Regions from separate parts of the Homo sapiens genome. Here regions 2 and 3 are each linked to region 1. Evidence: fine-mapped expression QTL. A gene starts in region 1. Each other region holds a variant in brackets. All regions are shown on one strand. Distances are from middle to middle. Region 1 holds the start of LINC00402 (long intergenic non-protein coding RNA 402). Region 2 overlaps LINC00402 (long intergenic non-protein coding RNA 402). Region 3 has its middle 36 kb from the start of LINC00402.

Region 1 (5,358 bases):
CTCCTGTATTTATTATTCGTGGTTTTGAACATGCCAGGTTCACGAGTTCTACCTGCACTTGGCAACAATTCTGTACTTTCCTCAGCCCCATGGTGTGCTCAGCTGCTTGTAAAAAGTAAGGAAGCTCTGGTGACGGTGATGCATGGTAACAACAGTTTTTATTCCTGTCAGACTTGAAAGGGTGAGAATTTGGAAAAGGTAAGAGTTTATGAGATAGTCTTAATTAAAGAAAACTATTCACTTATACCAACACTTGGAAAGTTATCTAAAATACTAACTACTTCTTTTAGGTTGGAAAAATTAGAAGGTAACTGTTCCTTTCCATTTTTTCATAGGTACTGTGGGGCAGCCCAGGAGCCACTAACAACCAAGGCCTGCACCGGAATAAGCTACAAGGATTGGTTTGGAAGGCCAAAAACCTCAGCTGACCCTAAGTCAGTTCTGCTTCTTATACAGACTATTTCAGTCCCGTCTCCCCAGTGTTACCAATGTTGTGTTTCCACCTAATCCTAACTCCTTATCTTCTAAAATGTGACATGTTTCCTTGGCTCTTCAAAGCAAAATGGAAAGAGGGAGAGATTCAAATCCTAATGCTGTCACTTAACTGTGTGAAGATGGGTAGATGAGGTACATTACTTAGTTTCTCTGAGCTGTACTTTTCTCATTTTTAGAATGAGATGATAACACATGATATGATTTGGCTGTGTCCCCACCCAAATCTCATCTTAAATTGTAGTTCCCATAATCCCCATGTGTGTTGGGAGGGACCTGGTCGGAGGTAATTGAATCATGGGGGCAGTTCCCCTGATGCTATTCTTGTGATAGTAAGTTCTCACGAGATCATATGGTTTTATAAGGAGCTTCCCCCTTCACTTGACTTTCATTCTTCTCCTTCCTGCTGCCACGTGAAGAAGGACATGATTGTAAGTTTCCTGAGGCCTCCCCAGCCCTGCAGAACTGTGAGTCAGTTAAACCTCTTTCCTTTACAAACTACCCAGTCTTGGGCAGTTCTTTATAGCAGCGTGAGAATGGACTAATACACGTATCTTTAAGTTTTCTGTGGTGAAGATTAAGCATGGCAGACACAGAGTATGTACCCAATAAATAATAGGTATAATTGTGCTCATCCACACTCTCATCAATTACCTGGCAAAAATTCTATTCAAGGGCTAGGACTCTGCTACTCCACTCCAATCCTCTTCAGTTCCACTATGTTTACCTCAGTTCCCCAACCAAATGGGTAACAGCTGGTTTTGCATGAAAGTGAGCAACTATGGAGGCAGAGGATTGTCTCCTCACGTACTCGGGATGAATTCTACCCCGAGGCACCACACCCTTGTTGGGCCAACTGCACAGAATTCTGTGCATGCACGACTATCAAGTGTTTATCTATTGCCCCAGAAGCAAGCTTCTCTAAACCTGGTGCTTGTTTCTCTCCTATGCTTCCATCTCCTGTTGACCTCCCTTCCAATTCTTTCCAATGTGCCTCATGGAATTTTCATTCTGTTATGAGTAACCCTCTGTTGATCTCCTAGTTTTCATTAAACGTTGTCTGTGCTTCAAGAACACTGAATATCTTTTTGCTGTGTTAAATCCAAAGCTTAGTCATTGGTCCTCATCTTAGTTGAATCCTCAGTACTTTCGCTACTACCACCCTTGTACAAGCTGCTACCTTTTTTTTTTTTTTGCCTGAAATGATACAGTAGTGTATAAACCAAGTATCTCTGCTTGCATCGTCATCTGCCTGTCATGTATGCTCAATGTAGTAACCACAGTGATCCTTATAAAAGTAAAGTCAGGTAAATGTCACTCCTTGGCTACTTCAGGTCAGGGACCATGTCATTTTTTTTTTTCCCTCTGTATCTCCAGGGCTTATCGCTGAAACTTAGCAGGCACTCAGTAAATATTTTGCTAAGCAGTTAAAACTAAGAGAAGAAAGAGGAGGGAGAAATATGGTAATCACTTACCACATCCTCTTTTAACCTCTTGAATATCTTACCAATGTCTTCTTTTGTTCTTACTTTCACATCATTTGATTTGATAAAACAAAACTATTATCTAGAGAGGTAAGGCAGACTTGTGAACTGGACCCGTAGAAGTTAAGTGATGTCCCTGTTTGCAGTGTCAATGAGATTGAGGGCTTGGGCTTGAACCCAACCTTCTCCCTCCAAATAGCCTGCTCTTTCTGTTATGTCATGTTTCATATACAAGTTTGGGAGCCTCCAGCCCTGACTATCCCAACATATACAACATAATGTATATGTTGTCTTTGGAAATATCTTCTGTGAAGGCCAAGCATTTAATATTACAGGAAACCTTGAAGTGGATATGGAAGCTTGGCAGCCAGCTTGGATCTTCCTAAGAGCCTCTTTCCTTCATACCATCTTCAGAGTACGTATCATTCAATAGAGACTCTCTTGCACAGGAATTATTATTATATGCTTGCAAATAGTCTCAACCAAAATCTTTAACCTGGAAATGAAGATGGGCTACTGTCTAGGAAGCCTCTGATTTTGTTATTGGTTTTTATTATCATGTTAGGTTTGTATATTAAGGAGAAAAATTGGCAGAGAGCATCTAACCTATTAAAATTAGATATTCAAAGAAATTTAGTTTTGGGGGGTCTGAATTGATAATATAACATATGGAAGTTAAAATTCTAGAAGCTATGTTTACTATATGATTTCATGGTGTAACAAGATCTGGGAGTAACATAAACTAATCTACCTTCCCTTGTAAACAATCATCTTCCTTCCAAGTCTTGCTGGCAGAGGAAGAGGTTGTGGGACAGTGTGGGAAGAAGGAGGGAGTCAGAGTTAATTTCATTATGTGCTTCCTAAAGAATGGGTTATTCAACAAAAACACTAGTAACAACAGCAACAATGAAACTCCACCTCTCTGAAGTGTATAGAAGATTAATATGATATTTAAGTACATTTTAAATAGATTTTCTATTTCCAAATTGATAACTGTGGTCATGTAAACTTTCATGATCCTTTGCGGCTGACTCTCTTGTATGTCCATTTGGCAGTCTCAGTTTCTGCTACATTAATTTGACCTTGATAATTTATTCATTCATATATGTTTGTATTATTTCTTGAACCAGATTACTATAAGAAACTGTCTTGTTCTTGTCATATCTTTTTCCATGCTCTCACACCTCTAAATAATTATCTAAACCTAAAAAAGGATAAGTACTTTTTAGAAATTTACTTTACATTCAAAGTAGAGTGTCTTATCTAGGTTTGACAGTTTTTACACTCTGAAAATTGAAACTATATCAACAAAAGTAATTTTATACACTGTCCCAAGCTTTTAAGAAAGTGATAAATATACACTGTATATGACATTGAAGTACATTTTGAATAGCTTTTCTATTTCTATCTTGATAATTATGTGGTCCCACGTAGGTCAACAACAACAAAAAAGTGTTGGGCCATCCCATGTAGGTTGACAACAACAAAAAAGTGATAGGTATACAGTGATCTTTATACCTATCAAATTTTGTTGATCTTATTTATTTATTATTATTATTATTTTCTGAGACAGAGTCTTGCTCTGTCGCCCAGGCTGGAGTGCAGTGGCGTGATCTCAGCTCACTGCAACCTCCGCCTCCTGGGTTCAAGTGATTCTCTTGCCTCAGCCTCCCGAGTAGCTGGGACTACAGGCGCGTTCCACCATGCCTGGCTAATTTTTTGTATTTTGTAGAGACAGGATTTCACCATGTTAGCCAGGATGGTCTTGATCTCCTGAACTTGTGATCTGCCTACCTTGGCCTCCCAAAGTGTTGGGATTACAAGCGTGAGCCACCGCGCCTGGCCTGATCTTATTTTATAAAGATACACTGTATACCTATAACTTTTTTGTTGTTGTCGGCCTACATGGGATGACACCAGAACTTTTTACTTTTTTGCGACTTCTTCAGGGCCCTTCTGATCATACTGATTCCATGGTCCAGCAGCCCTGACCTGCTCCATCCACTATGTGCCCTGAAATGCATACCTGTGGTGGGAAACTCCCAACAGGAGCTTATGTCACATATACGTGGCCAGAAAAACACGAGAGTGCCTCGGGACAAGTATTTCACGAGCAATGGAAAAAAGTCATTTTGTTACCAGTTCTTCCAGAAGCATATTCACCCATGCAGATTCATAATCTGTAACACTTAAATACAATTTCTTTGTTTCTAATTACACATTGTAGTTTGGAGAAGCATGATAATATTCAATTAAAAGTAACTCATGAATTGTTTGTAGAAATCCCCGAGATGACTAAATATTCTATATGAAGACAGATGAATGAAATAATTTTAATCTCAAATCTAGAATATACTTTTTAGAATTAAAGAGCAGAGGGTCTTTTATAATAAGGCAACTTGTCACCTTATGGACATCTTCAGATCATCATATGATAAGAATGTTTAATAATATTAAAAAGTGGCATTCCAATAAATAACATGGTAATATTGCGGGATACAAGCTTAATATACAAAAATCATTTGCTTTCTATATACCAGAAATGAACAATTGGAATTTGAAATAAAAAACACAATGCCATTTACATTAGCAACAACAACAAAATGACATACTTTGATATAAATCTACCAAAATATCTACAAGTTCTATATGAAGAAAACCACAACACTGATGAAAGTATCAGTATTGGCTCATTAATTGTAACCAATATACCACAGTATTGCAAGATGTTGATAATAGGAGGATAACAGGTAGGGAGGGGATAGATGGGAACTCTCAGTACTTCCTGTTCAATTTTTTGGTAAACATAAAACAGCTTAAAAAATAAAGTCTATTAAAAATAAGTGCCATCCATGGAATACATATAGAAAAATGCTGCTACATTAAATATTACCTATAGATAAAAATGCATCCCAAGACACAGTACAGCATGTTCAGATGATTCTCTGTGAAGCAGCATAACACAGTGGGTAGAATTCAAATTTTAGAATCAGAAAGACCTGGATTCAAATCTGAACTCTAACTTGCAAAAACTGTGTGAATCTAAGCAAGTGGCTTAATTTTTTTCTGAACCATATTTTCATCATCTGTAAAGCTTGGATAAGAAGGACTACCTTACTTACATGAGATTATGTTTGCAAATCACATGAAACACTGTATGACACACTGTACCTGTCCAATAACTGATAATATCCAATCTTTAATGTATAAAGCTACACTTAAAAGCTGTCCATATTTTTAAAACCAACAGAATGAAGTCAGAAATAAGAAAGGTATTGGAGCAAAGGAAAAGTCATTATGCAAGGAAGGACAAGTTATTCATTCGTTTGGCTATACATACATTTGGAGACCATTCAGTAGATTCACTTACCTACATTTTGTA
Region 2 (5,358 bases), 25 kb after region 1:
TACACAGAAATATAGCAAAGCTGGGTTTTGAACTCATTTCTAACTGACCTCAAAGCCCATGATCACAACCATTCTGTCCATTGCCTGCTGAATCTAGAAATTCTCAACTGTGCTTCTAAGGTGGTAAAGTTTATAGGTAGCCTCTTCCGTGTGATGTGAGGCTCGGAGCTAGACAGGGAAGTGACTCCTTAAACAGAATAAATACATATATGGTCTAAATCACACCATCACATGCCATGGTTTGCGTGTATGTGTGTGTGTGTTTGTGTGCGTGTGTGTGTGTTTATTTCTCTTTTGTTGTTTGTCCCTTAGTTATTAATAAACCTCGCTGAAATATGCAGGCTTTACCTCAGCTGTGCTATGAATAAGTAAAGAAAAGGTGAGGTGGCCATAAATGGACCATAGAGCTCAAGAGGGAACAGTTCTTCTCACTTTGAATGGCTGCTGCTGTGATCATCAGCCAAGATTGACAGGAATTAGAAGAATGTTGGAGAAAAGATTGGTGCCTGCAAAGGTTGGCTGCCTGAGCTTTGATCAATACTCCTGTCTAATGTCTAGGATTTAGTTTTAGAAATTTAGCATTAAAAATAATATATCTTCTGTAACAGATATTTAGTAAACTAATACTTTAAGGAAGGGACCATTTTTATTATTCATTTTAAGACCCCATAATGGTTAGCATGGTAACTTGTCCCAAGTAAGTGCTCCATAAATACTGGTTAATAAGAGAGACTGAGCCTGTCTTCAAGTTAAAGAAGGAGGGTGTTGGGTACAAAGACAAACTTCACTCAGCACATTGCATGTGCCAGAGTGCATTTTTAGGATTAATGAAGAAATATAACATCATTGTTTTTGATGTATACTCATTTGCTGAGGGTATATAGCCTAGTTAAGTTTTTAGTTGCTTATCAATTAAATGACATTTTGCCTTTTATGTGGTATCATTTAACAGCAGGCTACTAATCAGAATTTCATTGAGCTTTCAATTGCATGATGTAATGAGACCTAAAATGGATATAATTTCAGGAAGTTGTTTTACCAAATTATTTTTGACCTGAGAAGGATATCCACAAAACAGTTATTTGTAGCTTCTATTATATTGAGTGGTTTCTACTTAATTAAAATTGTGTCTCTAGCCTAGAAATTATTTTCTAAGAAATGTTTTCTTGCTAAATAAGATTGTTGTATATAGGAGAACTAACTCTATCTACTGACTGCTGCTGCTTACTGAGGAGACAAATATATTTCCATAAAATTCAAATAAAATGTTTTTAGATTCCAGTCAAATGCCATCATCTAATGAGATGACTGAGATGACATCTACTACCTTAAAGAAGTCAGGAATGAGGCCGGGCACGGTGGCTCACGCCTGTAATCCCAGCACTTTGGGAGGCTGAGGTGGGTGGATCACGAGGTCAGGAGATCGAGACCATCCTGGCTAACATGATGAAACCCCGTCTCTGCTAAAAATACAAAAAATTAGCCAGGCGTGGTGGCGGGCGCCTGTAGTCCCAGCTACTTGGGAGGCTGAGGCAGGAGAATGGCGTGAACCCAGAAGGCGGAGCTTGCAGTGAGGGGAGATCGCGCCACTGCACTCCAGCCTGGGTGACAGAGTGAGACTCTGTCTCAAAAAAAAAAAAAAAAGAAGTCAGGAATGAACTGCTTCAAGGCTAAGACATACTTGGCTCACATCTCTGATATCGGCTAACACTGGAATCAGCATGGCCCAGAGGATAAAAACAATAAACAACACAAACAGAACAAAATAGAACAAAACACATAACTGAAAATAAAGACAACTGAATTCCAGTCCCAGCTCAGCCACTGTTGTGCTTTGTGGGTCTTGTTCTTGTACATTTCAAATCAAGAGGATGGAACTTGTTCATCTCATTGTTGTGAAGATGAAAAGTTGAGTAACTTGTGGATCTGGGTGGGACTGTATTAGGGACTGGTACAGTAAAACAATTAAAATGAAATGATCCACAGGAGACACTTCCATCAATAGGTAAGTTACAGTGGGTGGGATAATGAGCCCTTCAACCCACCAGCGAATCAGTAGGGTAAAGCTAGCACTTCAACACATTGGTGGTGGTGGTAGTGAGGGGGTGAGTTTATACAGCATTAAGCTTTTCTTTTATTAGTGGAAAACTCTGAGTAGAGCTTGTGTGTGTGTGTGTGTGTGTGTGTGTGTGTCTAAGATTTTCCTATCTGTTGCCACGCTGTTTTGGAAACGGCCTACTATTTGCAGACTCACTGTCATTCACTAGTCCCGATTTTAATCACTGTTTGATCTTATATTACACATGAAATGGTAGAATAATAATTAAATTTTGTGTCACTGTCCCTGAAGACATATTTTCATATATTAATTGCTGATTAATCTTCTACTTTTTTTTGTTGTTGCAGTTGTTATTCCGTGACATCTTATCTACTTAAGCAGCTAACCCATGAGGCATCCAAAACAGAGAGAAAAAACAGAGT[G/T]AACATTTTGCCTTATGGAATTGTCAAAAGTTGCGGTCGAAACACAGGCAAGATTTGGAAGAATCTGTAATGAGCCAGGGCCAGTTTTCCTAGTTATAGAGCCTAGGCTGGAGGAGGTACATGGGCTGGGGAAGGAGAGGGAATTAGAGATTGGCTGTTCCTGGAAACTCTCTGCCTGTACTCCATGGCCTGAGTCCCAGGACCTGGAAGCGGCTGAAAATCTGAGATATAGAAGAGACTGGTGCTGCCTTTCTGGGGAGGGCTTGGGAAAACAGCAAGTTCCCTGAATTTTTCCATGGCACAGGAGCAGATGAAATGTCATGATTGGTGTCCAGGCTAGTGGACTGAGTTAACTCCCGAGAGTCCCTGTACTCTCCAGCATGGCACGAGGAGAAGCAAACCATTTTCCTATGCAGCCATAGGAAAACGGTACAAACACGACACTGAAATTCAGCTGACCGCAAGAGCTTGATGGTCAGTGTGAGCCAGATGGAGCAGGAACATGTATGGATGGAAAACCCAGATCCAAAGTTCATCCCCCTCTCCCGTGGATGCTCCAGCACATTGCAAGGTTTCCCAGAAACTTAGAGGCAACCTTGGCACAAGGACATGATTTGTTGGAAATTAAGTTTTGTCACCTGGGGGACTGCGAGCTTGATACGGAAATTAATTCAGTTATATAATTATAAAAATGATGCACTTTCTACACATCTGATTTTGTGAACCCAAATTAGTTTCCACAACGCAACTGTGTTAACATTTGCCAACCTCTGGGGCAACATTGGTTGTCTTTGTTGCTTTTTTCTAGAAGTTTTCAGCTCAAACTCATCTTTCCCTTTTTTATTTTCATTTCTAAATTCTGGTGAGTGGTGTTTTGATAAGTAGATATCAGCTATTTCCTGTCTTACTTGAAAAGTCTTCTCTGTATTAAATAACAAAGGTCACTTAGATAAATATCTTCTCATTACCAGAGGGTAGGGAACTGCTTCTCCTATACATAACTTCTATTATCTTTCAATCCAGAAAAAAAAACGTGGCAGGAGGACAAGTTTTTGAATGTTATGAATCGTGATTTCTGTGTCTAAAATCTGCTCTTTTGTTAACACTAAGGGCAACTTCCTTCAAAGTGGTTCATCTTGGTCTATTACTGTGTTTGTGTGTGTGTGTGTGTGTGTGTGTGTGTGTGTGTGTGTGTGTAGTAAAACCAAAGTTTCCTATTATTTTTGAAGGTATTTGGCCCTGCTGGAAGACAGCTATGTATAAGTTGAACTTGGCAGAGAGAAAGGGAAACCAGATCTTACTCCCAGGCCTCCTGTCACCAGCTGTGTGACTTTGCTGAAGTCATTTCTTTCCCCTAAGTCTCAGTTCCAATACCTATAAAGTGAGTGTTCTGCCTGTGTGTGTTTTAGGTCTTTATTAATGTTGAAATGTCCTGACTTTATGGGTTCTCATTCACTGTGATGTGGTAACCAAAACAAGCAGAGATTAATAACCAGGACTCAATAATGTAAAACACTAAAAATTATATTTTTGCAAATTTTTGTAAACGCGGGATCATATCTCTCTCAGTGACAGTATTGGTGTGATCCATTATTGTACATTTAGTGGATAAACAGAATGTAACTAAGAAGTGTTATCTTTGTTATCAGGGGAACGTGGAGTTGGATGTGTATGATGGGGATGGGCAGTTAATTCATAGGTTAAACACTCAACGAGGGAATATCTCTTTATCGCTATCTCCAAAGACTCCCCACTCTTCCTCAATTTTCTTAGTAACTCACTGCTCAGACTTAGTTTCCCCAGAAGCAGACTATGAGACCAGGATTTGATGCAAGCAGTTTTTTTGGAGTTGATCTCAGAAAGGCTAAGAGAGTAGAGAAGTAATACAGAGAAGTGAAGAAAGCTAATAGAAGGTCCCGGTGCTCTCTCCTGAAAGAGAGCGCTGGAAGACTGAGTAGAACATGCCCCAGAGTTGTCCCCCTCTGCTGGGGCAAGAGAACTAGGGTACTGATCAGCTAATTTCCGTGCTTCACTGGTTAAGGGCATTAACCTCCCCAAACTTCTGGCCTGTGCCCCAGATAGACCAGGCATGCTTCTGTGGCCAGAGAAAGCCCGAGGATGGAGAGTCACAGATGCTTGTGGTAGGTAGCAGGTGGTGTGTATGGAAATGGGAATGGGATGCCAAGGGGATTTGGGCAGGGCACCAAGCATCTGCCGCATTACCCTAATCCAGGCAATAACACTCACAGTATCCCAGGGATTCCCCTTCTAGCCTCGAATTCCTCTTATTCTCATTTATTTTGTATTTACTTTCTAGACCATAGTTTCTCAGATAGTAAAGGTTCTACTGACTTTCCTCATCTCTCTGCAACCTCTTTCCTGCCTAGCTTCTCTTCCATGGTCAAGCCAATACACACAGAATTTTGCCTTCCATTCTTCACTCAGGTGTTTCTTCCACTTGGAATCTGTTCCTCAGTCATTTTCACTAATCCATGTCCCTCCCAGTACACAGAATTTTTCACAGAAAACATAGTTAATCCTTTAAAAATATATTTAGATTGACTTGCATGCCCCTCTTAAGGTTTTTTCTTTCCAAATGCCTTTTTTAAAACCCCAATTTAAGAATTTCTTTAGCCAATACTACAACAATGCAGTCCTTGTTCTCCACTTCTTTCCTTTTATCTACTCAATGTTATTAATCTTTTTAGTGTAAACATCAGTAACTCAATCGAGCCTTTTCTGATCCCCATGATTAGGATGAGTTTTTGTGTTGCCTACTCCAAAAGGTCTGTCCTTTTTAATGCTCACCACACTTGAGGTTTCTGTTCACACTTCAAAGGCTGTGGGGCCCGATACCATGATTTTGCTGCACTCCTA
Region 3 (5,358 bases), 35 kb after region 1:
GGGAACTTTACCTGATGATGCTAGCAGAATATTTGGACTCTTATAGCTGTAGAGATGAGGTATCCAAAAAATAAATAAAAAGGGTAGTCTTGAGTTGCCAAGTTAACACATTACTTATCCCCTCTTCAGCTTCTTTGGTGAGAGTTAAAATATTAAATGGGACAGAGTGACATTCTGAATATTAAAATGGAGATATATGGGAGGATTTGAAGGACTTGAAATAGCCACAGAATCCAAATTCTTTAAGCTTCCTTAGCCAGTTGGTGCATTCAAAATAGCTCAGGTAAAAACCCTTTTCTTTGTTGGAAGAGGCAGTCCTTCCCACTCTTAAGTCAGTTCTCTTCAGATCCTAACCCTCTTTCCCCCATTTTCATTTCAAACTGGTAACTGAATTTGGATTTCAGCATACTAATTTATGTTGTCAAACTTTGTGTAATAGTTTTATACAACAAAATAAATACACAAAATAAATATACTTAACAATTTGTATAATAAAATACCTAGGGGAGAATATGTCTTATTAAATTCCAAACATGCTCAACCAAAAAGTGAATAAATGTAGTCTTAGGTTAGTCTATTTTTTTTTCATATAGTGCAATTATCTGAATTCATAGAGAGGGCAAGCTACTTTTAATACAGGAAGCTGTATAGATTATTGATCATGCTAAAGAAAATTAAGATGCCATAAATTATTTACAATAGTACCTAGAAAGAAATAAAATGACCGAATTTATAACATGAATCTCATCTACTTCCTAACTATGTTGCCTAAGTAGACATAGATGACCATTTTTACTAAGGCCTTGAGAAATACTTATGAGGGAACTACTAGTATCTACAAAAATGTGATTGTGGCTTCTCTTGTCAGTTGGGGATATTGATGGGAGGGACTAATATTGAAATAGTCTGCCTGATTACAGTGGAGATTGGAAAGATCCTATGATTGAGAAGGGCAGGTGCAGAAGTCAGGCACTTAACCTCCAGAGGCCATTTATTCGTGCTTTCCCTAATAGAGACACATAGATATTTAACACTGATTTATTGATCATTGAGTCTATAGATCTGAGATATATGGGCAATCACAAAGTTCCTAATAAATTTGCATAAAATCCCCATGTCTCAGGATGAAGCTCACCAAAGGAAAAACAGAGTCATTACTCTATTTCTAGACCTGTGGTCGTTTTCTGGTGTAAATATATTCTGAAGAAAAGAATATAAGTAGACCTTTCAGTTGTTTTAAGATAATGGCTCCCAAATTACACATGTCTGTTATAGAAGAATGGCACTGTGGTTCAATGGTCAGAGTAGAAATGTATGATGTTCAGGTGATAGAGTCTTGACCCAAGCCCATCTCACTGTAGGCATAGTGGGACCTACAGACACATCCTCTTCTTTTTCCCTTCATTTCCTGTGTGTTCTTGGAAAAGATACTCTAGACAACTGGCTAAATACTCACATTTACTTCTTAACTCAGGAATAAGAGTTATTATGAAAGGAAAGAACAAGGATGGAAGTCCTGGATCTCACCTTCCTTACTAAAAGAAAAACCAAGAGCAGTAGGATATTCCCATAGAATCTGAGAGATTAGTGCTACCATCAATGACTGAAATGGTAGGTTGTGGTCATTTCTATCGCAGCTCCATTCAACTCTCCAATTAGTTTGATGGGGAAGACAGATGGGTCTTGGAGAATGAGTGTGGATTATCGTAAGCTTAATTAGGCGGTGCCTCCAAGTGCAGCTGCTGTTCCAGATGTTGTCTCCTCACTAACTCATATCAACAGAGCTCCTGGCAATCAGTCCAGGCTGCAGTGCAATCAACTCTACCTGGCAGCCCATTTGATCCAGCGGATCCAATGAAGCTTGAAGAGTTTGTAGCAGATTGGGATGCTTTATGGAGCTCCAGTAGTAAATTCTCAGTCAAGACCTCTAATATCATTTAAAAAATCAAAGTTATGACCTCTCCAGTAAGTAACTAGTCCTATTTTGAGAAACAACTCTTGAAATGCTACTGGACCTTGGTAGGACTAAATACCTGGCATTATGATCTGAATTTCCCATTATGAATGAGTCACAAGCTCATTCACCAAAAAATAAAGTGAGGAATCCACAGCAGTACTCCCTCAAGTGAAATGCACACATACCCATGCATCCACGTGCACATATACACACACACATATGCACAGGAATGGTTCCAAGCCAATCTTAAATGCACATGTTAAATTGCACAAGGAGGATTCTCATCTTCCTGGTATCATCCTGCTACGCTGCTGTTCTCTCTCAACCCCAGTGGCCTCATGGAAGGATTCCTGTGACTAATTAGTAGCCTGAGATGCCAAATAAATCAATAAATGGATAGATACGTAGATAGATAGATAGCTCTTGGTTTACAGATGCTTCTTCCTGATTTCCTGGGGCCAGCACTGGTGGACTTATGGTAAATGATTGTACTTCTTAATTCAATGCTGGTCCTAAAGAGAAGTAATCCTGTTGTCTAATTTGCCTGGAAGAAGTCATAGATTGAGTTAAGTAATAACAAAAACCAGTGGACCAGTGGGTAATGATTAATAATTTGAGCAGGTAGTCAGAAGCTTAGAAGTAACAAGAATATTTTGGTAGAGGGTAGTGGATATCTTTTTCCATCTGAATGCTCTCAGAGTGGAAAAATATTAGTGTACCATTTGAATGCTTATCAAGAGTCTCTTAAGGTTCAGGATAGATGATAACTCACTCTCTAGATGTCAGTCAGCCTCCCCGCCCATTCTCCTCATACTTGCATAATGATCTCATGAATTATGTAGCAATGGTGATAGTGAAAACTACTGTGTTGGATTGAATGATGGTCCCCAAAAGATATGCCCACATCCTAATCCCCAGAATCTGTGAATATGACCTTATTTGAGAAAGAGTCTTTACAGGTCTAATAAAGTTAAGGAATTTGAGACAAGATCACCTGGATTTCCTGAGTAGCTTCTAAATCCATCAAAATGTATCCTTATAAGAGACAGAACAATAGCCAAG[A/G]TGTGGAAGCAAACTAAGTGTCCATCAACTGATGAATAGTGGTATATATACAGGATGGAATATTATTCAGCCACAAAAAAGAAAACCCTGTCGTTCATGGCAACATGGATGAGCCTGGAGCTCATTATGTGAAGTGCAAAAAGCTAGGTACAGAAAGACAAATATTGCATGTTCTCACTCATACGTGGGAGCTTTAAAAGTTGATCTCATGGAGGTAGAGAGTAGAATGATGGCTACCACAGGCTGGAAAGTGTAGGGGGAAGGAGGGATGAAGAGAGGTTGGTTAATGGGTACAAAATTATGGTTATAGAGAAGAAATAGGCTCTAGTGTTAGCACAGTCAGGTGACTATGGTTAGCAATAATTTATTGTATAGTTAAAAATATCTAGAAGAGAAGATTTGGGATGTGCTCAATATGAAGAAATGATAAATGTTTTAGGTGATGGATACCCCAATTGCCCTGATTTGATTGCTACATAGTATATGCATGTATCAAAATATCACATGTACGTCCAAATGTGTACAATTATTATGATTAATTTTTTAAAAAAGAGGCAGTGGAGGAGAAGAGAGACACAGAGAAGGCCATGTGAAGATGGAGGCAGAGATTGGAGTTACGTAGTCAAAAGCCAAAGGATACCTGGGGTCACTAGAAGCTGAAAGAAGCAAGGAAGGAGATTCTCCTAGAGTCTTCAGGAGGAACAAGGTCCTACTGATGTCTTGATTCTGACTTCTGGACCCCGGAACTGTGAGAGAATGAATTTTTGTTGTTTTAAGCTACTGAGTTTGTGACAATTTGTTACAACAGCCAAAGGGACAAATATACTAAGGAGAGATTCTCTATATTATTTTGCTATCACTGTTGCTGAGGGCTCAATTTTTCCAGTAGAATTATTAGTCCATTTTTAGCTAAGGAGCTAGAACCTGGGTGGGACTTTTGGCAGGGTGATTACTTTTTTTAGTGGGACATCAAGTATTTGTGCCAACTGAAAAACACCTTAAGGATATGGACTGGATTTGTTTTTTCTGCCTATTATATTTCTAGAAGCACCGTTAATTATGGACTTAACAGATGCCTCTTAGCTCATCAGATTATGTCGTCCAACATTTCTCTGGCCATGAAATTGTTATTTTGTGAGTGAAATCAGGTAATATGCTGCTGGTCATGGGATAAGTGGTTTTATCATGTACCCTATCATCCCAAAGCAGCTCACTTACAGTATAATTCAGAGGCTCATTGGAGGATCTCTTACAGTTTCATTTAGGAGTTCTCCTTATGAGATTGGAACTCCTGTTCAGGAGAGCAGTATATGGAATGATTTCTCTCAGAGATAGATAATATGCGAGTCTGGAGAAGAAGGGTGATAGAAAATTTTATGCTTTTCAGGTTACAGCTCATAATGTGCCCTAGAAATTGTGCTAACTCCAAACACTTCTGGCTTAGAGGATTTAGTAAGCAAGAGATGAATGCATCCACCAGGCATTGTAACAAGTGTTCTTTTGAGTTGGAAGCTGAGACAGCTATTTGGTCTTTTTAGGTTCTTCACCATGAGTTGAGTATACTAAAAAGAGGGATTATAGTGCTGTCTGGGGTGATTAATCCTGACACTGAAGAAAAATAGAGTTGCTAGTTCACAGTGGAGGCAGAAAGGAGAATGGACAGAATCAACTGAGACGAAAGTGGGGCTGGGGAAGACCTTTGCATTGCCAAGTATAGCAATAAATTAAAAATGGCTTAAAGGTGACTTTAGTCATATACAGCAGGATCATCTAAGACTTAGAATTCTCAGGAATAAAGGTTTGGATTACCCCAGAGATAATGTTATTCAACCAGCTTTTGTGCCGGCTGATGGCAAAGGGGACATGAAATGAAGGAGTGGGGAAGGCATATTCATCTTCATGATTTTCCATAAACAAGAAGTGTAGTCACTTCTGTATTATTTTACTTGCTCTGTCTCTCTCTCTCTTTGTATATAGTTACATATTTAACTAATCTACCTTTTATTTCCTGCTCATTTCATATAGAGCATACTGAGTTCACAGTATGCTCATATAGAGCACACCACTATTTCATATAGAGCATACTGAGTTCACAGGCTGAACAATATTTATGTGTGATGGAGGCAAAATTAGAGAAGAATAGATTGTGACTAAAGAGCCAAGACATGTATTTAGATTTGTATATAATGGGACTCTGGATGGTCTCCTTGTTGCAAGAGTAAAAAAAATGTGTTTTAATTATACACGATGATATCATTATATTTGGCAGAAACATATTTTTGAGAGAAGGATATATACAGATTTTAATTAGTGAAGGAGTTATAGTTTAGGGGTATTTG

The links.
Region 2: its variant is fine-mapped to the expression of LINC00402 in whole blood (TOPMed, PIP 0.98).
Region 3: its variant is fine-mapped to the expression of LINC00402 in whole blood (INTERVAL, PIP 0.92).

Annotation. Positions count from the first base shown.
Region 1 is chr13:74,229,362-74,234,719 of GRCh38, forward strand. LINC00402 (long intergenic non-protein coding RNA 402) reads left to right here and starts at 2,083. Exons shown (of 2, transcript NR_144451.1): 1 at 2,083-2,391. It also overlaps a transcript of KLF12 not described here.
Region 2 is chr13:74,254,527-74,259,884 of GRCh38, forward strand. LINC00402 (long intergenic non-protein coding RNA 402) reads left to right here. Exons shown (of 2, transcript NR_144451.1): 2 at 2,407-5,358. It also overlaps a transcript of KLF12 not described here. Among named protein-coding and RNA genes, the nearest start is that of LINC00402, 26 kb to the left of the region's middle. The variant G/T (reference allele first, on the strand shown) is at 2,482.
Region 3 is chr13:74,264,312-74,269,669 of GRCh38, forward strand. It overlaps a transcript of KLF12 not described here. Among named protein-coding and RNA genes, the nearest start is that of LINC00402, 36 kb to the left of the region's middle. The variant A/G (reference allele first, on the strand shown) is at 3,020.